7 linked regions of the Homo sapiens genome follow. The protein of the gene in region 5 interacts with the protein of the main gene of each other region in a biochemical or structural test. Each region holds a gene or a part of one and is shown on either strand. Other genes may lie near its edges.

Region 1 (3,500 bases), on a different chromosome or scaffold from region 5:
CACGGGGCCTCCTGTGCCTGCGCCCTGGTCCCAGTGCCGGGAGCTGAGCCGTGCCACCCAGTTGACTTTGGCTTAATGCAGAAAAGTCTCCGCTTGCCAGGTGGAGCCTGTGAGATTAAGTCAGGCTGAGCCTTGAAATGCACGATTGATGACTGCGTCATTGTATAGAAAGGTGATTGAAAATCAGCTCACTGGGATGCACTTACACTGCATTATTCGTAAAGTAGCAGGAAGCCTTTGCTCTCCCTTCATAGTCATTTGCATGCCCTTTTATTCAACATGCATGTAGGATGTGCCTGCTGTGTGCCAGACTGTAGGACGGCGTCACAGTCATGAGGTGCACAGCGACACGGCCAGTGCAGCCAGACCCAGACGTCTCCCTCCTGCGGCCCTTCGTGGACTCACCCATGTCCCTCCTCAGCCCCCGGCAACCACTCATCTGTTTCCGTGGCTGTGCTTTTGCCATTTCAAGAATGTGACATTAATGAATCCCACAGAATGTCACTCTCGGGATTTGTTTGTTTGCTCAGCACAGCTCTCTGCAGACCCCCAGGTGCCGGTGGCTCACTCATTGTGTTCCCCGGTGTGGACGGACCACAGTTCTTTCAATCATTCACCTGTTGAAGGGTATCTGGGTTGTTTCCGGATTTGAGTATTACAGATAAAGCTGTTACAAACATTGATATACTGATGTTGGTGTAAATGTAAGTTTTCATTTCTTGGGCTTAAGTGCCCAGAATGTAATTGCAGGGTTATATAGTAGTTGCATGTTTCGTTTAAGAAAATGCCAAACGGTTCTCAGTGTATGAGAGACTAGTTGCTTCCCCTTTCCCCAGCACGTGGTGGGGTAGTGATTCTTCATATTATGCTCACATCCTGATGTGTGTGCCATCTCACGGTGGTTTTCTGTTGCGTTTCCCCAGTGTTGATGGTGCTAAACACCTTTCCACGTGCTTATTTGCCATTCGCATATCCTCTTTGGTAAAATGTCTTATTTCTGTTGCCCATTTTCTAACTGGATTGTTTGGTTTTGTGCTTTTGTTTTACGGTTTTGTTACATTTTGAGAATTCCTTATATACTGCAGATACTAGTTCTTTGCCACATATGTGGTTTGCGAATATTTTCTCCTGGTCTGTAACTTGTCTTTTCATCCTCTTTAACAGGGTTTTTCACGTAGCCAAAGCATTTAATTTTGACGAACTCCAATTTGTCAATTTCTCCTTTTAAGGTTTATACTTTTGGTCCTAGATTCCAAGTATATTCCCCTAAGCCTTTTTCCCCTCAAATTTCATAGTTTTACATTGAAGTCTATGACCTAATTTGAGCTAATTTTTGTATAAGGTATGAGAATTAGATCATGATTTGTTTTACCTCTGGATGTCCAATTGCTGTAGCACTGTTTGTTGAAAAGGCCCTTTCTTCCACTGGATTTCTTCTCCACCGTTGTCAAAGCTCTGGGCACATTTGTGTGGGTCTGTTCTGGAGACTCTCTATTCAATTATGTTTATCTACATACCTCTTCCTCTGTCTGTACCACAAGGTCTTAATTGCTGCAACTATATAATGTCTTGAAATCAAGTACACTCATTCTTCCCTCTTTGTTTTCTTTTTCAAAATTGTGTTAGCTTCTAGTTCTTTTGCCTTTTCATGGCAATTTTAAAATTATCTTGTCTACATATATGAAAACAAATTTCCTGGGGTTTTCATAGGAGTTGTGTTAAACCTATATTTTAAGGAGAAGAAATGTCTTTACTGTGTTGACTCTTCTAGTCAACAAACATGGTATTCCCAACATTTGATTTCTTTCATCAGTGTCGAGTAGTTCTCAGCACACAAGTTCAGTACGTATTTTGTTTGACTTACCTTTAATATTCCACTTTAAGAAGTCATCACAGTATTATATTTTTAATTTTGGCATTTATGTATTCATTGCTGCACATAGAAACACAATTGATTTTTGTATATTTATCTTGTCTCCTGCGACCTTGCTGAGCACACGTATTTGAGATGGTTTTTTGTGAAGTCCTTGACATTTTCCATATAGACCATCATGTCATGTGCAAATAAGGACAGTTTGGTTTCTTCCTTTTTGAAGATATGCCTTTTATTCTACCCCCCACCCACAACACCCTGCCCCACTGCGTACTGCCCCAACTAGAGCTTCCACCATATGATAAGAGTGGCGAGACTGGACATCTCTGCTTTGTCCCCAACCTTAGGAGGAAAGTGTTTAGTTTTTCACTGTCAGGTGTAATGTTAGTTGTAGGATTCTTGTAGATGCTCAATAAAACTATCTGGGCCTAGAGATTTCTTTGGGAGACTTTTAAAATTATGAATTCAGTGTCCTTAATAGTTACGCAACTATTGAAACTATCTGTTTCACAATGAGATATAGTAGTGTGCTTTTCAAGGCAATGTGTAGGGTTGTTTATAGTATTCTTTCTTATCTTTTTGACGTCTGCAGGGTCTGTAGTGATATTCCCTGTTTCATTTCTGATATTTGTAATTTGCATCTTTTCCTTTTTTCTTTGTCAATCTAGATTGAGATGTATCACTCCTCATCTTTCCAAAGAACTCGTTCTTTGTTTCATTAGTTTTCTCTGTTGTTTTCTGTTCTCAGTTTCATTGATTTCTGATCCTACCTTTATTATTTCTACAAATTGCTTTGGTGGGAACTTACATTCTTTATTTGAGACTGTTCCTCTTTTCTAACATACATATTTAATAAGAACACTATAAATTTCCCTCTCATCACTGATTTAGCTGTGTTCCACAAATTTTGATGTATTGTATTTTCTTTTTCATTTACTCCAGCTTTTTTTTTTTTTTTTTCCAATTTCCCTTGGAACTTCCTCTTTGACCCATCCATTCTTTAAATGTATGTTGTTTGGCTTCCAGTGTTCAGAGATTTTCCCGTTGTCTTTCCATTCTTGATTTCAAGTTTGATTCATTGTAATCAGAGAACATACTCTGTATGATTTCTGTTCTTATAAATGTGTTGAGATTTGTTTTGCAGCCCAAGAATATGGTCTTTCTTGGTATATGTTCCTCACTTGAAAAGAATGTGTATTCTGCTATTGTTAGGTGAAGTTTTATACATATCAGTTAGATCCTGTTGGTTGATGGTATTGAGTTCTTCTATATCCGAGCTAGTTTCTGAGAGGTGGTGCATTATCCATAACTCAGTGGCTGTGCGTAACATGGAGAGAAGTCTCACTCATCAGCTGTGCCAGATGCAGGGGGTTCAAGGATGGACAAGAATCCTGCCTTCCTGGCCTTCAACCCCAGGCCATCTGAACTACAACCCCCTTGGCACTGGGATGTCTGCGTACACACCCATTCTCAGGATCATTTCCAATAACAAAAATTAAAAGCTTTTGTATTTAAAGGAATAAGTGGTCATATGTTTTAAAAATCAGGCCAGGCATGGTGGCTCACACCTGTAATCCCAGCACTGTGGGAGGCCAAGACGGGTGGATCACCTGTGGTCAGGAGTTCA
Region 2 (2,636 bases), on a different chromosome or scaffold from region 5:
GAACGCCTGACCTCATGATCCACCCGCCTTGGCCTCCCAAATTGCTGGGATTACAGGCGTGAGCCACCGCGCCCGGCCGTCTGTCTGGTTTTCAAACCAATCAATGAACCCGTAAGCCTCTTTGGTATATATAACAATGAAAAAATTCATTAAGCCATGAAATCTAGAAATAAGTCATATTTCTGAGTTGATAAAATGCTTTTCTGAACATACATTTTAGGTATCTGGCACAATTAACCAAATGTCTGCCCATTTTTGTGTAGCTTTCATACAGTACAGATTTCATTGATGTCGCTCCCACATCTGAGTATTAAAAACATTTGACATTGTTCTTCTCAGTCCTCACAACACCCCTGTGAGGTAGGTGGTATTGACCCCATTCCACAGATGGGGAGGTCTAGGCACGGAAAGGTTTAGTGGCTCCTCACAGGCCGCGTGGTGGGGCAGCAGAGTGGTGCTCTGGCCCCGCGCCGACGCCGCCTTCACATTCACACTTCTTCAGTGCCACCGCAACACTGCATGGCAGGATCTCACGCTGAGGCCAAGTTCCTGTCTAGTCCAGAATGAAGCCAGCGTCTCACCTCTTAAAGCTTCGATGTGTGACTCAAAGCCAACTTACTCTCCCAAACTTGCAAAACAAACATACTGACTGAATCTTAGTTGGGACTATTTGCAGTATTTAAGATTATTTTTGAGAGTCAATCTGCTTGGATTTGTAGTTGTATATGCTCAAATCCCTTTGGAAAACAGTTTGAAATGACATGAGGGACAATGTAATTTTGAGAACAGAACACAGAAAACAAGAGTTCTGAGACTGGCATTGAAATTGAGAATATAAGCTATGGTAAAATGAGAATCAAATCCCAAATAAACGGAGAGCAGCACTTCTCAATGTTTAAGGCCACGCACAGGGCAGGCATTCAGTAAGCACTTCTTGGATCAAAAGAAACTGATGCTCCTTTGAGCCGCCTATCACTGACAACAGGAGCTGAGACCCCCGGGAAAGCCAGCCAGGGCCATGATCCCCTTGGCCTGGGGCCACGGTCACACAAAGCCACTCAGCCAAATCGTGTAGAGTTATCTAGGCTTACTTGCTGCAGGATAAAAGTTGAACTAGAACACCAAGCATTGAGCTAGGAATACCCCTTTGAATGTGTACTGCTACTTATAAAAAATAGGTATGTAGCTATGATTAAATAGATGAAGGGCCAAAGCATCCTATGAGGAAGTATTTTTAAAATTGTATAGATGTTCATGCAGTGGGGGACAGAAATAAAGAGGTTAAAGCGGTCTGTGTTTTTCGGTTAAATGAAAGGTTGTAAATGCATTTTTACCGCTGATAAGAAGGGGTACCTGCTACCCCTTTCTGCTGTGGAGTGTTGCTGAGGACAGAGTCCATCTCTCCCAGCGAGTCCTGGTTATCCTTTACTTACACTCTGGCCTCGGGGGCAGTGGCGTGTGGCCTCGGTCCTCCCCAGGTAACTCTGGAGGGCGCTGTGGAATATTGCTGTGATTTGCCCCTTACTCGTCTTTCACCCATGTTCCGCCTTGATTCGGCATAAGGACAGACTGCTCCAGTGGGGCCTTGGGTCCTCAGGCCTTCTGACCGCTTGGTCTTGAGTGACATTCCAGAAGAGTGACTAATGACATAAAACGATTAAGAAAATCCATGTGGCAGCGGCCAACCGGAAACAGTTTTGTCCCAGGCTGCACAGGGTCGGAGGCCCCAAGGTCACCGGGGCCACTGCCCGTCACAGGTCCACCTTGACCCCCTTTATGAAAGGCAGGCCCGTGGGCACCCTCTTCTTATACTCCAGGTACTCCTCTCCAAAAAAGTGAATTAGTGAGATTTCTTCTTCTTCTGTTCGATCGCGGAAGAATCGCCACACTGTCAGGGCATAGCTGACGCCGCAGATGGGGTTACACAGCATCACCTAACAGAGGGAGACACCAGGCTCATCAGGGTGACCGTGGGATGACGCCCTGTGCTTTGGTAGGCGTCTGTCTCTAATACCCAGAGGATTTCTGTGCCCATGCCCTGCTGAGACCGTCAGGGTCTCTGGGAGCAGTACTGTCACCTTAGCCCTGAGCACTCAGTGCTGCAGGCCTTTCTCACGTGCTTTCCTGTTGCTCCTCTTACATGAGAGAGATCTGTAAATCACAAGATCAACCTCTTGGATTTCAACCCTCAGCTTGGGGTGACAGCAATGCCCCCCACCTCCAGGTGTGAGCTCCCCAACATGAGGTCCCATGCACGCTGCCTTCCTGCCCAGGACCCTCCCACCACAAATGCATTCGCTTACACCACAGCTGCCTGGGCCTCTGCCTCCTAAACCCACAGCCTCTGCTTCAGCACGAGATACAGTGCCACAAAACTCAGCTTCCGAAATGCCCCTTCCAGCAGATTACCTCCACGCTCAGAGAGCTCCAGAGACTGAACCCCACCCCCTGAGTCTGGGTTTCCAACCCCAGAAGAGCAGCACTTCGCCCACTTCCCCAGTCTCCTGCCCTCCCCACGCTGTGCCCACTTTGCCTCTTTTTTTTCCCCCGAGACAGATTGTCACTCTGTCACGTGGAGTGCAGTGGCGTGATCATGGCTCACTGCAGCCTTAACTGCTTGGGCTCAAGTGATTCTC
Region 3 (3,500 bases), on a different chromosome or scaffold from region 5:
ACTGTGTCCCCACAGGGTGGGCGTGGCCTACGTGTCCGTGCGAGTGACCCCGAAGAGCACGGCCCGCTCTGTGGTGCTGGAGGTCCTGCCGCTGCTCGGCCGCCAGGTGCGTACCCTGTGCCTGCTCCCCATGCCGGCCAGACTCGGTGGGGGGTCGCTGTCCCCAGGAGGCCAGGCCACCATCCCAGCCCAGGCGTGGCTGTCCCCGCGGGTGTCCTGAGGTGGTGGGGGCCTGCCCAGACCCGATGCCAAGCTCTACCCCAACAGGCCGAGAGTCCCGAGAGCTTCCAGCTGGTGGAGGTGGCGATGGGCTGCAGGCACGGTGAGTAGACAGCCCGTGCTGGGCGTGGCGGTCCCTGCACCTTTTGGGTTTGGACCTGCTGCCCAGGCTTTCCTGCAGGGTGGTGCCGGACATCAAGGCCGGGCTCTGCCCTCCTGACCAGCTCCACCCTGCATCCCCACGGGCCCTGGGGGCTCCGGGCAGCTGCTTCCAAGGTGGGCGAGGAGCCGGGTGCTGACGGCCTGTGCCCTCACCTCTGCAGTCCAGCGGACGATGCTGATGGACGAACAGCCCCTGCTGGACCGGCTACAGGACATCCGGCAGGTGAGTGGGTGTGGACGCCGGCCCCCAGGGAACCAGCAGCCCTCAGCCACAGCCTCTGCCCCACAGGGTGGGTGTGCCCCAGACGCCGAGTTCTCCTTGGCTAGGCAGCGGCTGTCCTGGCTGACAGGGCAGCGCCCTCGTCATGAGCTACTTGGTCCCTGCAGGGAGGCCTCGAGCTGCAGATCTCCCCGAGGTCCTCGAGGGGAACGGACAGGGGTTGTCCACAGCAAGGAAGCCTCTGTGGCCCCTTTCCTCGTTTTCCTGTTGACTTAATTCCTGGGAGTGTTCCTGATGCCCTGTTTTGCTGTTTTGCGGGTGAGGAGACAGAGGGCCTGGTGCGGTGGTGCCGTTCTCCCCGGCCCAGCATCCCCGCCCCTCTCCCTGCAGATGTCTGTGCGGCAGGTGAGCCAGACGCGGTTCTACGTGGCAGAGAGCAGGGATGTAGCCCCGCACGTCTCCCTGTTTGTTGGCGGCCTGCCTCCCGGCCTGTCTCCCGAGGAGTACAGCAGCCTGCTGCATGAGGCCGGGGCTACCAAAGGTGTGACCACTGTGGCTGGCCGTGGGCTGCTGGCACGGGGCAGGGTCGAGCGGCAGGCAGTGGGGCTGCAGTGCTGAGCCGGCTCCTGCCTCTCCTTGAGCCACCAAGGCCTGAGCTCCGGGTCCAGCCCACGTCTCTTCCTCCAAGAGGCTCTGGAGCCTCTCGCCCTCTGTGGCCGTTCCCTGCGGTGCTCAGCCTCTGCCTCTCCCTCTCCCTCTGGGGGGTCCTGTACCTCCAGGGAGCTGGGAGTCCTGCTCCTGGAGTGGGGCAGGGGTACTTCCTGGGGAGGCTGCCTTTGGGGTGAGATGTCACCCCTGGACAGGCGGAGGGGCTGTCCCTGGCCCCAGTGCTGTGTGTCCTTCGCCTCCCACCGCCCTGACCACAGCCTGCCTTTGCAGCCACCGTGGTGTCCGTGAGTCACATCTACTCCTCCCAAGGTGAGCTGCCCTGAGGGACGTGGTCACATGAGGCCCAGGGGTGTTCCTGGGGTGAAGTGGGACAGCCCTGGCCCTCACGTAGCACCTGACCTTTCCCTTGGGCAGCCCTGGGCTGGGGAAACGTCCTGGTTTGGTTCCTGCCCTGGCACCGTGGGGGCCATGGGACAGGCTCCCCCTGAGTCCTGGGCTCCTGCCGCAGGCGCGGTAGTGTTGGACGTTGCCTGCTTTGCGGAGGCCGAGCGGCTGTACATGCTGCTGAAGGACATGGCTGTGCGGGGCCGGCTGCTCACTGCCCTGGTGCTCCCCGACCTGCTGGTGAGTGTGCGGTCAAGCCGGCTCTTCACACACCCCAGGGGGTGGCCAGAGGGAGGTCGGGGTCTGCAGGTGCACAGGCCCCACAGCCAGACTCGCTGTTTTCATCTGGCATCACTTCCTTGAATTCACTGGGGGCTTGTAGGTGCCACCTTGTTTGTGCCTCACAACAGCAGGAAGGACTCTGTTGCCCGTTTTACAGCAAGGGGCCTGAGGTCAGAGGGTCAGCGCTCATCCGAGGCTGCCCAGTAGGTGATACCAGCTCCGTGGGGCACCGTGGGGTCAGGCCCAGCTTCCACGCTGCACCTGAGGCCTCCACCCAGTAGGGAGGCCCACAGGACGCAGCTCCTGGATGTGCCGGGCCCCGCTGCGGCTGCCTCGCCAAGGGCCAGAGCGTGTTTGTGACCAGCTGTCAGGATCCCAGGCATGGCCCTCCCGGTACAGCCTCAGCCTCACTCCCCCTGCCCGGGAGGCCTTAGGGCCTCTGCTCTCTGCCTGGAGCTCCCCAGGCCAGTCAGTGCAGCTCCCAAACTTTGAACGCTGCCCTTCAGACCCACAGTGCCCAGAAGAGGGGGCACCTGGCAACAGGGCAGGGCTGGGGGAAAGGGGGATCTGGAACATGGAGACAGGGCAGGGCCGGGGGGAACGGGGGTCTGGTCCGTGGAGACAGGGCAGGGCCGGGGGGAACGGGGTTCTGGCCCATGGAGGGGCTGGAGCCTGGGACTCCACGCTGCACACCGTGCCTTCACATTGGCCTCTCGTCCTCAGCCCATCTAGCCCCCAAAGGGTCCCATGAGGACCCCCCAGGTGTCCATGGCTGTTCTACCCCTGAACCTTGACCCTTGATCGTGACCCCAGTCCAGGCGAAGCAGAACTCGAGCAGAATGAGTTGTCTGTGGCTGGGACGGGAGATGCCTGTGGCTCCCTGCTATGCCTCCCTCCTGTGCCCCTACACCCGGCCTTGCCTGGCTCAGGACAGGGTGGCCATCCCCACTGTCCCGAGGATGCAGCCCCCACCCCAGCTCCACTCGCTCTGTGGGCAGAGCCAGGTTTGGGGCCGACACGCGCTTTCTCTCTCCCGTCAGCTGCCTGCCCTGGGGTGAGTGGTAAGTGGTGACCGCAGGCGGCTCTGCCTGCCAAGTGGGTCACGAAGCCCCGAGTGTGTCCTTGCCCCCAGCCACGGCCGGCCCCTGTGCCGCTGCCCACCCTGTGTCTGCACCCAGCCTGTGTGTCTCCTGTTGCCCAGCCTTCCCCGCTGTGGGGGCCCCAGCCTCCTGTCGTAGGGTCCCTAGCCTCCTGTCGTAGGGATCCCAGCCCTGAGCCCGCTGTGTCTAGATCCCTGGGTACTGTTTCTTGGGGTTGTGTGTGGGGAGATGGACTCTGTCCTGTGGTCGAGGGACGCCGCGTGCCACCCTGTGAGTTAAGAGCTTTTCTCGGCTGCTGTGTAGGTGGGCGGTGGCCTGGGAGCCGCCATCCTCCAAAGGTGTGCACCAGAGGCCCCCCAGGGGACAGGCCTTGGTCTCGCTGGCACAGAGTGCCACGCAGAGTCCCACGTGGATTTCCAGCCTGGACTCGCGCTGCATGGCCCAGGCGGGTGTGGTCTGTTCAC
Region 4 (3,500 bases), on a different chromosome or scaffold from region 5:
GCCTGTAGTCCCAGCTATTCAGGAGGCTGAGGCAGGAGAATCGCTTGAACCCAGGAGGCAAGGGTTGCAGTGAGCCAAGATTGCACCATTGCACTCCAGAATGGGTGACAGAGCAAGACTCCACCTCAAAAAAAAAAAAAAAAAAACCAACAGAGTGACCAACCAGGTGTGTGTTTTGCCTGCCTCTTCTCCCACGTGTGTTTTAGCTTCCAGGCATTTTAACTCTTCTGTGCAAAACTCAGTGTTTCCACTGCCCTGGAGTGTCTGGCAGCCCAACACAGAGTCCCCCATTTTCTTTTAACTGTCCCTCTTCAACAGCCTTGAGCCCAAGAGTCTAGCTGAAACCCCGGCTGCAGCCCCGCCCCACCTATGCCACAACAGGGCCAGGCCTCCTACTGTATCCCTGCCCCACGACTACATCCCTCCCCGGGCCCACGAACACGCACTCACTGGGGTTGGGCTGCAGCAGCACCTCTGTCTGCCTCAAGATCTTCTCTGTCCAGTTCTTGGTGCTGTCTGCCCGGGCCAGAAGGTTTTCAAAGTGGGCATCAAGCTCAGTCTTCTCAGCCTGGCCAAATTTCTCCTCCGTGAACTACGCAGAGGGGAAGGCCAAGGGGTGGGGAGGGGGAGAGCTCAGAAGGAGGTGGGGGAGTGGTGGGGAAAGGGAGGACTGCCCCTCCCCACCAGCAGGAACCCAGGCAGGCCCCAGGGTCAAGGAACCAGCCCTGAGTGTGATACTGTGTGACCTGGCAGGGCCTCACTGTTTTCCCCTTTGTGAAATGAGGTGGCTGGGCCAGAGTGTGGGAATCACAGCTTCTTTTGGAAATCCAATGAAAGCTACACTCTCTCCCCACAAAAATGCACCTTCATATACAATCTGGCACACAGCTTAGTGCGGTGAGGAACCCTGGGGAGGCCAGCCCTAGGGTCCTTTGAGTCTGACTCTGAAGGAGAGGACTTGGTAGAAAGTACTCGGGACAAACAGGGCAGGGAGTAGGGTCTGGGGTTATCAGGGGGCTCCATGGGCAGCTGGGAGCTGCTAGGGAGAGGGTGCCAGAGGAGGGAGAGGAAGAACCCAGGGTCGGGGTTCAGAAGGACCTGATTCAAGTCTTAGTTCTGCCACTGTCAAGATGTGTGACTTTGGGCAAGGGGCTCTGCCTCTCTGAGCATTGGTTTCCTGAGCTGAAAAAAGGGAATAATAGCACCTCCCCCATAGGTTATGAGGATGAAAGAGGAAAGATGTGGGTTAGACATAAAGGCTGGGTCGGCTACAGTGCTGCTGCCCCACGTAAGGCACCGGTGCTATGAGCTGATGGGTGCAGAGACGTCTGGGAAGGAAGGGGAATGCAGGGAGGGAGGATGGCCAAACGGTTGGCTTTGGCCACCTGGTAGGGTAGATGGAAACACTGCCAGCCTATCAGAGCCAGCGGCTGGGCACACCCAGGGCCCGGATGTCGCATGGGTCCCCATCAAAGCTGGCAGAAGCCGTGGGGGCTACCTAGGAACAACCAGAAACTGGTCCAAGTCCTGGCCCCTCTGATCTAAGAGGGCCCTGGAACACATGTCCCCATTTTCCAAACGGGGACACCAAGGCCTTCTCTAGCTAAGAGAAAGGGCTTGCCCAAGGTCACAGCCAGGGTGAAGACCTGCAGGAGTAAGATAAGGAACAACAAACACTGTTGGCCAGCCCTGTCCTAAGGGTTTCCTCATGACCTCATCAACCTCTAATGCAAGGAGGGCTGTTTCCCATTTCACAGATGCTGCCACTGAGGCTGAGCAAGGGGCAGGGCCACGCAGGAGTCGGTCAGCCATGAATCATCCCTGGCTGCAGTTGGCTCCAGCTGCGGTGGGGGGTGGCGGGCTGGGCGGCCACCAGGAGCTCAGCAGCCATCAATTATGTAGCAGAGCTTGGGTTTCTCCCTGCAGGGCTGGGAGGGCCCAGCTGCCAGGGGTATGGCCTCAGCTCCTGCCTGGGGCCAGCTGCTCCTGGCCTCCCTCCCCCACCCTGGCTGGCTCTGCCTCCTCTTCCTCGTCACACTCCCCAAAATGAGACCTTCCAGAGCAGAGGCTCAGATTTCCTCGTGGCTCTATTACCTCACCCAGTCCTTTGAGGGGGGTGGCGTTCACCCCATTTCCCAAATGAGGAAACCAAGGCTCGAAGAGGCAAAGTCTCCCTTCTGGACCTGAGAGCCCCTGCCTGGAGAATGCAGATAACAGGATCTAGTTCATTGGCTATTTGGCCAGCACACAGTATGGGGCTGATACATGTTAGCTAGTATTATTATCACCATCATTAATGAAAAGCCTTGGCTAGGTGCAGTGGCTCATGCCTATAATCCCAGCACTTTGGAAGGCCGATGTGGGCAGATGGATTGAGCCCAGGAGTTCAAGACCAGCCTGGGCAACCGTGAGACCTCCTCTCTACAAAAAAAAAAAAAAAAAAAAAAAAGCCCGGCACGGTGGCTTATGCCTATAATCCCAGCACTTTGGGAGGCCAAGGCAGGCGGATCACGAGGTCAGGAGATCGAGACCATCCTGGCTAGCAAGGTGAAACCCCTTCTCTACTAAAAATACAAAAAATTAGCCGGGTGTGGTGGCGGGCACGTGTAGACCCAGTAACTCGGGAGGCTGAGGCAGGAGAATGGCATGAACCTGGGAGGCGGAGCTTGCAATGAGCATCGCCCCACTGCACTCCAGCCTGGGCCACAGAGTGCGACTCAGTCTCAAAAAAAAAAAAAAAAATTAGCTGGGCGTGGTGGCACCCACCTGTAGTCCCAGCTACTCAAGGGGCTGAGGTGGGAGCCCAGGAGGCGGAGGTTGCAATGAGCCAATATCATGTCACTGCACTCCAGCCTGGGTGACAGACCAAGAACCTGCCTTAAAAAAAGAAAGACTTTGGGAGGCCGAGGTGGGCGGATCACGAGGTCAGGAGATCAAGACCATCCTGGCTAACACGGTGAAACCCCATCTCTACTAAAAATACAAAAAATTAGCCAAGCGTGGTGGCAGGCGCCTGTAATCCCAGCTACTCGGGAGGCTGAGCCAGGAGAATGGCATCAACCTGGGAGGTGGAGCTTGCAGTGAGCCGAGATCACGCCACTGCACTCCAGCCTGGGTGACAGAGCGAGACTCCATCTCAAAAAAAAAAAAAGACAGCAAGGAAGCCAGGCATGGTGGCTCACGCCTGTAATCCCAGCACTTTGGGAGGCCAAGGCAGGTGAATCACGTGAGGTCAGGAGTTCGAGACCAGCCTGGCTAACATAGTAAAACCCCATCTCTACTAAAAATACAAGAATTAGCATGACGTGGTGGTGGGCGCCTGTAATCCCACCTACTCGGGAGGCTGAGGCAGGAGAATTGCTTGAACCGGGGAGGCGGAGGCTGCAGTGAGCTGAGACTGCGCCAGCCTGCGTGACAGAGTGACTCCGTCTCAAAAAAAAAAAAAAAAAGGCCAGGCATGGTGGCTCATACCTGTAATATCAGCACTTTGGGAGGCCGAG
Region 5 (3,500 bases):
TTTGTGCTGAAGATGATGAGGTATCTATTAATAAACTTGTGCTGCAGCCCTCCCTGTCATGACAGGGCAGCAGGTGGGTCAAGGATGTTGTCGTCATTACCACAAACAGCCTTTGAGGGTCTGCTTGTGGCCTCGGGTTGCCTGGATAGTTAGTGTTAGAGTGATTGTGTTGTTATGGTTGTCCCTACCTTAATGATGATAACTGGGGTTGCTCCAAGATATTGAGCCACTTGTTTAAGGTCATGCTGGCCCAAGGAGCTGAGCTAAGATTGAGTCCTCTGTGCAGTATGTCCCAGGACAGAGAAAGAGCACGTATTCCATGCCGTTGGTTCACTTAGATCATTTTCAGCAGTTATGATTGATTGATTGATTTAGAGGCGGGGTCTCGCTCTGTTGCCCAGGCTGGAGTTGAGTGGCACAATCTTGGCTCACTGCAACCTCCGCCTTCCAGGTTCAAGCAAATCTCCTGTCTCAGCCTCCCAAGTAGCTTGGACTACAGGCATACGCCCCCACGCCTGGGTGATTTTTGTATTTTTAGTAGAGACCGGGTTTCTCCGTGTTGGCCAGGCTTCTCTCAAACTTCTGACCTCTGGTGATCCACTCACCTTGGCCTCCCAAAGTGCTGGGATTACAGGTGTGAGCCACCACACCCAGCCTAGTTTTGGTTTTCAAACTAATATGACTTCCTTTTGTGAAGCTGCTGGAAGGCCCTGGAGGCTGGGCAGAGCTTTAGGCCACAGAGAAAATTTGAGCTAGTTGACACTCTCCTATCAGATACACACATAAATAACTTCACCTAGATCCTATTGGAATGAGAAGGACTGTGTGCCTTTGCCCTCGTTATCTAGTGTATAATTCTTGAGGGAAAAAACTGCCTCCAGAGCAAAACATTTTGTCTCTTCAGTCTCACTTTTTTCTTTTTGAGACAGGGTCTCGCTTTCTTGCCCAGTCTTGAGTGCAGTTGCAGATTCAGTTTACTGCTGCCTCGACCTCCTGGGCTCAAACAATCCTCCCATCTCAGTCCCCACCCAGTAGTTGGTACTACAGGCACACACTGCTGCGCTTGGTTAATTTTTATATTTTTTAGGCCGGGCATGGTGGCTCACGCCTGTAATCCCAGCACTTCGGGAGGCTGAGGTAGGCGGATCACCTGAGGTCAGGAGTTCGAGACCAGCCTGGCCAACATGGTGAAATCCTGTCGCTACTAAAAATACAAAACTTAGCCAAGTATGGTGGCATGTACCTGTAATCCCAGCTACTCAGGAGGCTGAGGCAGGAGAATTGCTTGAACCTGGGAGGCAGAGGTTGCAGTGAGCCGAGATCGCATCACTGCACTCCAGCCTAGGTGACAGAGTGAGACTCTTGTCTCAAAAAAAAAAAAAAAAAAAGTTTGAAAATTTATTCACCAAAAGTGGCGACAGTCAATTTATTCAAATTCTATGTACCTCAAACTCCAGGAAGGGGGTAGACTATTGGTATAATTTCACATATTCAGGAAATAACTACAGCACCTACTAACAGAACATCTATTCTAGGCCAGGCACTGTGGCTCACACCTGTAATCCCACCACTTTGGGAGGCCAAGGTGGGTGGATCCTGAGGTCAGGAGTTCAAGACCAGCCTGTCCAACATGGTGAATCCCTGTCTCTACTAAAAATACAAAAAAATCATCCGGGCGTGGTGGCGAGTGCCTGTAATCCCAGCTACTCGGGAGGCTGAGGCAGGAGAATTGCTTGAACCCGGGAGGCAGAGGTTGTAGTGAGCTGAGATTGCGCCACTGCGCTCCAGCCTGGGCGACAGAGCAAGAGTCCATCTAAAAAAAAAAAAAAAAAACTTCTGTTCTAGATGAGGGAAGACAGAATAGGCTCCCCTCAATGCCCCCAAAAAAGTAAATCAGAAAATAACAACAGTAAACCCAGTAACAGTAAATATTACAAATAACATTTGTAGAGGTGGGTCATGGTTGTATGCTGTTTTGTTTTATTTATTTTTATTTTTGTTTTTTTGAGACAGACTTTTGCTCTTGTCACGCAGGCTGGAGTGCAATGGTGCGATCTCAGCTCACTGCACTCCGCCTCCCGGGTTCAAGCACTTCTTCTGCCTCAGCCTCCCAAGTAGCTGGGATTACAGGCATGCACCACCATGCCTGACTAATTTTTGTATTATTAGTAGAGACAGGGTTTCAACATGTTGGCCAGACTGGTCTCAAACTCCTGATCCACCTGCCTCGGCCTCCCAAAGTGCTGAGATTACAGGCCTGATGAGCCACTGCACCTGGTCTATTTATTTTTATTTATTTATTTATTTATTTATTTTGAGACGGAGTCTCGCTCTGTCGCCCAGGCTGGAGGGCAGTGGCACGATCTTGGCTCACTGCAACCTCCACCTCCCTGGTTCAAGGAATTTCCCTGCCTCAGCCTCCCTAGTAGCTGGGATTACAGGTGTGCACCACCATGCCCAGTTAATTTTTTTGTTTTGTTTTGTTGTTTTTGAGACGGAGTTTCGCTCTTGTTGCCCAGGCTGGAGTGCAATGGCACGATCTCGGCTCACTGCAACTTCCGCCTCCCGGGTTCAAGCGATTCTCCAGCCTCAGCCTCTCAAGTAGCTGGGATTGCAGGCATGTGCCACCACGCCCAGCTAATTTTGTATTTTTAGTAGAGACGGGGTTTCTCCATGTTGGTTATGCTGGTCTCCCAACTCCCGACCTGAGGTGATCCACCCGCCCCGGCCTTCACAGTGCTGGGATTATAGGCATGAACCACTGCGCCTGGCAATCTTTTTGTATTTTTAATAGAGATGGGGTTTCACCATGTTGGCCAGACTGGTCTCGAACTCCTGACCTAACGCGATCCACCTGCCTCAGCCTCTCAAAGTTTTGGGATTATAGACGTGAGCCACTGCGCCCAGCCTATTTATTTGTTTTTAAGAGATGAAGTCTCACTTTGTCACCCTGGCTGGAGTGCAGTAGTAGCGTGATCATAGCTCACTGCTACCTTGAATCCTGGACTCCAGTGATCCTCCCACCTCAGCCTCTCAAGTAGGTGGGAATGCAGGCACATGTACCACTGTAAACTGCTAAGTTTTTGTATGTTTTTGTGGAGATGGGGTTTTTGACTTTTTTGATACAGAGTCTCACTCTGTTGCCCAGGCTGGAGTGAGTGTAGTATTGCGATCTCGACTCATCACAACCTCCACCTCCTGGGTTCAAGTGTTTCTTCTGCCTCAGCCTCCCAAGTAGCTGGGACTATAGGTGCACACCACTGCGCCCGGCTAATTTTAGTAATTTTAGTAGAGATGAGGTTTCGCCATGTTGGCCAGGCTGGTCTCGAACTCCTGACCTCTGGTGATCCACCCACCTAAGCCTCCCAAAGTGCTGGGATTACAGGCACGAGCCACCACGCTGTCTGGAGATGGGGTTTAGCCATGTTGCATAGGCTGTTCTTGAGCTCCTAGGCCCAAGCTGTCTACTTGCCTTAGCCTCTCAAAAGTGCTGGAATTAC
Region 6 (3,500 bases), on a different chromosome or scaffold from region 5:
TAAGTAATAAATATTTTAGGCTTTGTGGGTCCTGTAGTCTCTGTTGCAACCACTCAACTTGGCCATGGTAGCACAAAAGCAGCTAAAGACAATATGTAAATGATGGGTGTAGCTGTGTTCCAGTAAAACTTATAAAAAGTCCGTGGGCTGGATTTGGTCCAAGGGCTACAGATTGCACACCCCTGGTCTAGCCCAAGCATCTGTGCATGGTGGCTGGCTTCCCAAAAGTGGAAGCTGCTAAGCTGCCTTTTTTTTTTTTTTTTTTTTTTTTGAGAGGGAGTCTCACTGTGTTGCCTAGGCTGGAGTGCGGTGGTGTGATCTCGGCTCACTGCAACCTCCATCTCCCGGGTGCAGGCAATTCTCATGCCTCAACCTCCCAGGTAGCTGGGATTACGGGTGCCTACCACCACGCCTGGCTAATTTTTGTATTTTGGTAGAGACAGGGTTTCACCATGTTGGCCAGGCTGGTCTCAAACTCCTGACCTCAAGTGATCCACCCGTCTTGGCCTCCCAAAGTGCTGGGATTACAGATGTGAGCCACCGTGTCTGGCCGCTTGACAAGCTTCTTAAAGGCACTGCCCTGAACTGGCACAGTGTCACTTGTGTCACATTCTTTTGGTTGAAGAGAGTCTCAGAGATGGCACAGATTCAAAGGCAGGAGAAATAGACTCCAGCGCTTAAAGTAAGGAGTAGCATGTGCCTACAGAATTGGAGGAACTGTTGGAGGCCATCTTTGAAGAGAGACCACCACTATCCATGGCTTGGCACGTGGGAATCACTGCTCTATACCAGGGTTGCAGACTCATGTCTTTGGGGGCCAGGCAGTGAGTATAAATGAGTCAAGTGGGCCAGTTGGAAGATGGAGTCAGACCTGCAGTGAACTCCCAAACACATCTGCTACCGGGAGGGGCAGCATTACTCAGCTCCAGCTCAGCGTCATCAGGCAGGAAGGCGAGGCAGTGTTGCCGGATGTGCCAGTGTTTCAAAAGAAGCCAGAGACTCCATTTTTATTTTTTTGTATGGAATCTCCTGATTTTGAAATATTGGCAGATAATTCAAATTATCTTAAACACTACAGGCCAAACAAAACATATCTGTGGGCTAGAGACAGTCTGCCAGTTTGTAACTATTTCTCCAGATCATGAGTAAATTTGGCTTTACGATGGTCACTCAGTTCTTATTACTCTAGGTTGTTCAAATGAATTAAAAAAGCTGAAATTATATGAATAAACCCCTGGGCACACATGAAAGAAGTGAAAAACCCATTGTTTCCTATTGTAGAAACATGGAAGCATGTCAGAGCCAGAGGATCCAGAGGAAATATTCTCACTAGCCTCAGACCCTCAGGAGTGAGGGAGCTTTTCTTGTTAATGGCCACGCTTGTGCAGTTTTCCTTCCCAGGTGCTGGTGAAAGAAACCCACAGTCTTGGAATCATGGAAGTGATACCATAATGACTGTCAGTTGACGTTGCTTTAAAGAATGAAGCCACAGAATTGTGCTGTTAGCATGTCGTGAGCAGTTAGTTGAGTTGGTGGCTTGTAATTTACTCTGTGTGGATGTTATTGATCAAAGCTTTTCATTATTGACAGTGTCTCCATCTGCTGTTTGCTGTTTTTAGGGGAAACCACCCTTTATGACTCAACAGCAGATGTCTCCTCTTTCCCGAGAAGGGATATTAGATGCCCTCTTTGTTCTCTTTGAAGAATGCAGTCAGCCTGCTCTGATGAAGATTAAGCACGTGAGCAACTTTGTCCGGAAGTGTAAGTTTGGGGAACTTTTTCTTGAAAACTGTCCTGAGAGAGAAAAACTAGAAAGATGCTTGAGGCAGAATGAGTTACTGGTTGATAGTAGTCGGTAAGAACTCTGGTTCTATATAAGACAGATCCAGGTTCAAATTCAGGCTGCACCTCTTATAGCTGGGAGACCAGGTAAGTTGGGCTTCTTGGTTGCAAGCGACAAACTTAATTCAAAGACTGAATTTAGGCCAGGTGCAATGGCTCATACCTATAATCTCAGCCCTTTGGGAAGCTGAGGTGGGTGAATCGCTTGAGCCCAGGAGTTCAAGACCAGCTTGGGCAACATGGTGAAACCCCATCTCTACAAAAAATACAAAAATTAGCTGGGTATGGTGGCTTGCACCCGTGGTCCCAGCTGCTGAGGAGGCTGAGGTGGGAGGATCACTGGAGCCCGGGAGGTTGAGGCTCAATGAGCTGTGATTGTGCCATTGCACTCCAGTCTGGGTGACAGAGTGAGACCCTGTGTGAATAAAAGAGTGAATTTATTGGCTCATGAAACTGAGAAATCCAGGAATGAGTTAAGTTTTAGCTTTAGGCATAGCTAGTTCCAGAGACCTCAATAATATCCCGTGGCCCTGTCCTTATACTCACTCAGGGCTGACTTTCTATTAGGCAGAGTAGGCACGGTGCTTAGGATCTGTGATATTTAATTTTAATGAATTTAATTACTTTTAATTAACTGAATTAAATTTTAATTTGTTTTAAAATTATAGGAAAAATGAATATAATAATGTATAATGATTCTGGATTACATTCATCTTTATACTAATGTAGTCATAAAATATAATTTTTGTTTTTTTTGGAGACAGAGTCTTGCCCTATTACCCAGGCTGGATTGCAGTGGTATATCATGGCTCACTGCAGTTTCAACCTTCTAGGCTCAAGCAATCCTTCCACCCCAGTGGCTGGGACTACAGGCTCACACTACCACGCCCAGCTAATTTTTGCTTTTTTCTCTGTAGAGATAGGGTCTTACTATGTTACCCAGGCTGGTTTCAAACTCCAGGCTTGAAGCAGTCTTCCTGCCTCAGCCTCCCAAAGCTTTGGGATTACAGGTGTGAGCCACCATGCCTGGCCCCATAAAATATAATTTTTGAATTCTTTTTTGTTTTTAATGGAGGAAGGGGCTGAGGAAGGCAAAAGTACCTAGGGCCTATGAAGTCATATATTGGCCTTGCCTTCACCCTGTTTCTGACTTTGCTTGACTTCCATGTGATGAGGCAGTTGGCTGTTAGTGTCCCAGTTTCATACTCTTACATTAGTGTTTTTCAACCAGTGGGTGATTTGACGTTTTCGGTTGTCAGAGCTAGTTGGGGGTGGTGGTGTGTGAGTTTGGGGGGAAGGGTCCTACTGTCAGTTAATGGGTGAGGCCAGAGATGCCACCAAACACCTTACAGTGCACAAAGCAGCCCCCATAACACAGAATTATGTAGCCCACAATGCCAACAGTGCTGAATTTGAGAAACCCCACCTTGTACAACATTGCTGTGCAACCAACCACCCTAAATATTACTGACTTAAAACAATAGTCACTGTGGCTGGGCGCGGTGGCTCATGCGTGTAAGCCCAGCGCTTTGGGAGGCTGAGGCGGCGGATCACTTGAGGTCAGGAGTTCCAGACCAGCCTGGCCAACATGGTGAAACCTTGTCTCTACTAAAAATACAAGAATTAGCTGAATGTGGCAGCGGGCGCCTGTAATCCCA
Region 7 (2,925 bases), on a different chromosome or scaffold from region 5:
GGTTCACTGCAACCTCCGCCCCCCCAAGGTTCAAGCAATTCTCATGCCTCAGCCTCCTGAGTAGCTGGGGCTACAGGCGCCTACTACCATGCCAGGCTAACTTTCGTATTTTTAGTAGATGTGGTTTTGCCATATTGGCAGACTGGTCTCGAACTCCTGACCTCAAGTGATGTCCCTGCCTCAGCCTCCCAAAGTGCTGGGATTACAGGCATGAGCCATCATGCCTGGCTTTAGTTTATATTTTAAAAGTACATTGCTGGTAATGTTTCTCACTTCAAATATTACAGACCAAAAGACATTCAGCAGCTATGCCTGTGACTGCCAACAAATGAAAAATCTCTAAGTCAAATTTCCAAGAAGGATATCTAAAGACTGTATTCTCTCAGATAGGTATTTTTTATCCTTTCACCTACATTTATAAACAATCCCAAATAATAACAGTATGATAGTGTGTACAGCTTCTGATTTTACTTATTTTACGGAATTAAACAGAAGTCTACTTCTTAGAACACCTAAATATTTATTTGGATAAAATAAAATAACAAGAATCTGGAGAAAAGAAACTAAGAGCCCCAAAGTTAAAGCTGGTAAAATAGTTCAAGAACTTGCAGCAAGTACCTAGAAAATATTAAATGGTTAGGACAAAACATTCACAGTTCAAGGTCCCAAGAAAATGATCTGGTGAGCAAATACATATACACACTTAAAACTAATCTGGATGAATTAGTGAAGCAATGAATAAATAGGTCAATTACTAAACCCACATAACTTATTCAAATAAAATCTAATACAAAAAATAAACTTAAAAAAATAGGTTAAAACACTAAATCTTAACTAAAATATTAGGCAAACTAGAACAGGAGGGCCGTTATTAAATTGTTCACAATAACTTACTATTTGAGACAAAACTGAATAGAAAATCTGAATTGTGAGAATAAACAAGTTGTTTCTCAACTACAATTATTTGACAGCTACTCAAAAAGTGCATATACTGCAGGTCTTAATACTACTAACTACTGGTAAAAATGACTAAACCAGAACTGCCAGCACCAAATTAATTTCAAGGGTTATAATTTTATGCATTTAGTATTAACTAAAATGCTAATTATCATTGGTTAGCTTTTCAAAATCATACTGCCTACAGAATTTCCACAAAAGACTAATTTCACACAATTTAATTAAGATGTGAATATGAGATTCTGTGACTCTTCCCACTCCTCTCCCCCTGACAAAGAAAACTCATATAGTGGAGGAAAAAATGGAGTCATGCAAATAGGACAATGATGAGGATCAATTGAATAGTGAAGACTCCCAAAGTTAATTAATTAGATTTTAACTGCTTCAAAAAGACCAGGGTACTTGGATCACATCAAGTAACTGGATGTTGGAATATGAGATTAATGCTTGTACAATCCTCTCATTGTATGTAAAGATGCTATCCTAAGAAAATGATTTGAATAGTATCTTCCCTTATTAAATCTTAGAAAATTTTACTTTCAGGTATTTCATAACCTGAAAAGGCTAAGAACTTCCAAGAGTTCTAATACAGTAAAAAAATCAACCATGTCCCATATGTATTGAAACAAATTAGAAACTGTTAAGAATTTAAGTACCTTGAAACTACTAAATTCAAGATAACACAAAGATTCATGTTGAACAGACCTCACCAGATCCAGACTGACAACATATACCACAAAATTTGGCCTAATAGTCACAAACCATGAAGACACAAATATATTCGTTAATATTAGCAGCTCTGCTATAACTAGAATAGTTTTCAAAATATTTCCAGTGGCTCTAAAGAATGTCTAGCCACAGCTCAAAAATCACATCCAGGTAAGATCTTAGTCTTAGAAATCTGTGCATTATCTTGTTTTCCTGATAATTTAAAAAATCAAATTTTCACCTATATACATCCCCAGAAAAAATTTTGAATCTCCTTTTCAGGTACAGTGAAAATTCAATAATACATCTCCTTAATAAGATTTCCATCATATTGATAAATTTATATTTTTATTTTTCATTTCACTTGAAAAAAATTAGCTAATTTTTACCAATGAAATGGTAAAAATAGAGGCAACTATAACTTAAAATTACACAGCTTCTTAATGTTTTATTCATAGCATTCTTTATACATCAGAAGCTTCACTGATATTTAATTTACTGCAGCATCCTGTAGGTGAAGCACAAAAATTACATTAAACAAAGAAACAAAAGCACTTTTGACTTTTTAAAATTATATGTGTATTTATATCCAGTTGACAAATAGCATCACAATTATTACTGTATAAAAAACTAAAAATCACCATGGAAGCTAAGGCCTAAATTCTCATTCCAATTGTTCCCTTTTGTTGATACCTAAGAGATATTAATTAGATTCCAGTACCTCAAAAAAAAAAACAAACCCAAATAAACAAAAAAACCCAGGTCTACATTATTTACATACAGTATGGGAAAAAAAGCTGCTTTTTGGCTAACTTAGATTGCGGTTACCTGCAGTATTTACACTGTAAATGTTAAGGGGAAGAAGCACTACTAACAAATACCATTTAAAAAAAATATATTGTGCCTGGAATTTTATTCTTAAATTAGTTGTATATCCTAATAAGTGTCTGTTGAATAGAATTTGACTTCTAATAAATCTACTGAAAGTGTGAAACAGAGTACCACTATGCTTCTTTATATTGCTAATCTAGATCCTGTTAGGTCCAATATTGTAGTTAACTATAAGCACTGAACCTTAAATGAAACAATGGCAACATGTGTGTAGATGAAATTTTATTCAGTATTGTAAAATATAATGCCTTGATGTTTACTCACAATTATGAGACTATCCTATTCTTTTAATCCTTTAAGAAGTCTCATATGATAGGTCCCTAAACAGTGAAACCTTCCAGTAACTTACCAGAAAAAAGTTTAATTATG

The links.
Region 1: the proteins of RHOA (region 5) and MCF2L are reported together in a solved structure, tested with the Homo sapiens proteins (one study listed by BioGRID).
Region 2: of the proteins of RHOA (region 5) and ICMT, one has a biochemical effect on the other in vitro, tested with the Homo sapiens proteins (one study listed by BioGRID).
Region 3: the proteins of RHOA (region 5) and DGKQ form a complex in vitro, tested with the Homo sapiens proteins (one study listed by BioGRID).
Region 4: the proteins of RHOA (region 5) and SH3GLB2 form a complex in vitro, tested with the Homo sapiens proteins (one study listed by BioGRID).
Region 6: the proteins of RHOA (region 5) and CIT form a complex in vitro, tested with the Homo sapiens proteins (2 studies listed by BioGRID, with this or other methods).
Region 7: the proteins of RHOA (region 5) and ARHGAP5 form a complex in vitro, tested with the Homo sapiens proteins (one study listed by BioGRID).

What each region holds. Positions count from the first base shown.
Region 1 is NC_000013.11:113,070,214-113,073,713, forward strand, and holds part of MCF2L (guanine nucleotide exchange factor DBS), read left to right. Parts: intron 1-3,500. UniProt on the Homo sapiens protein: Guanine nucleotide exchange factor that catalyzes guanine nucleotide exchange on RHOA and CDC42, and thereby contributes to the regulation of RHOA and CDC42 signaling pathways. Seems to lack activity with RAC1.
Region 2 is NC_000001.11:6,223,329-6,225,964, forward strand, and holds part of ICMT (protein-S-isoprenylcysteine O-methyltransferase), read right to left. Parts: intron 1,935-2,636; coding exon 1,752-1,934; 3' UTR 1-1,751. UniProt on the Homo sapiens protein: Catalyzes the post-translational methylation of isoprenylated C-terminal cysteine residues.
Region 3 is NC_000004.12:963,570-967,069, reverse strand, and holds part of DGKQ (diacylglycerol kinase theta), read left to right. Parts: intron 1-15; coding exon 16-106; intron 107-267; coding exon 268-322; intron 323-542; coding exon 543-604; intron 605-768; coding exon of another isoform or gene 769-991; coding exon 992-1,142; intron 1,143-1,540; coding exon 1,541-1,579; intron 1,580-1,778; coding exon 1,779-1,894; intron 1,895-2,976; coding exon of another isoform or gene 2,977-2,994; exon of another isoform or gene 2,995-3,500. UniProt on the Homo sapiens protein: Diacylglycerol kinase that converts diacylglycerol/DAG into phosphatidic acid/phosphatidate/PA and regulates the respective levels of these two bioactive lipids.
Region 4 is NC_000009.12:129,021,832-129,025,331, forward strand, and holds part of SH3GLB2 (endophilin-B2), read right to left. Parts: intron 593-3,500; coding exon 451-592; intron 1-450.
Region 5 is NC_000003.12:49,363,477-49,366,976, reverse strand, and holds part of RHOA (transforming protein RhoA isoform 1 precursor), read left to right. Parts: intron 1-3,500. UniProt on the Homo sapiens protein: Small GTPase which cycles between an active GTP-bound and an inactive GDP-bound state.
Region 6 is NC_000012.12:119,867,321-119,870,820, reverse strand, and holds part of CIT (citron Rho-interacting kinase), read left to right. Parts: intron 1-1,619; coding exon 1,620-1,761; intron 1,762-3,500. UniProt on the Homo sapiens protein: Plays a role in cytokinesis. Required for KIF14 localization to the central spindle and midbody. Putative RHO/RAC effector that binds to the GTP-bound forms of RHO and RAC1. It probably binds p21 with a tighter specificity in vivo.
Region 7 is NC_000014.9:32,157,304-32,160,228, reverse strand, and holds the end of ARHGAP5 (rho GTPase-activating protein 5), read right to left. Parts: 3' UTR 501-2,925; downstream 1-500. UniProt on the Homo sapiens protein: GTPase-activating protein for Rho family members.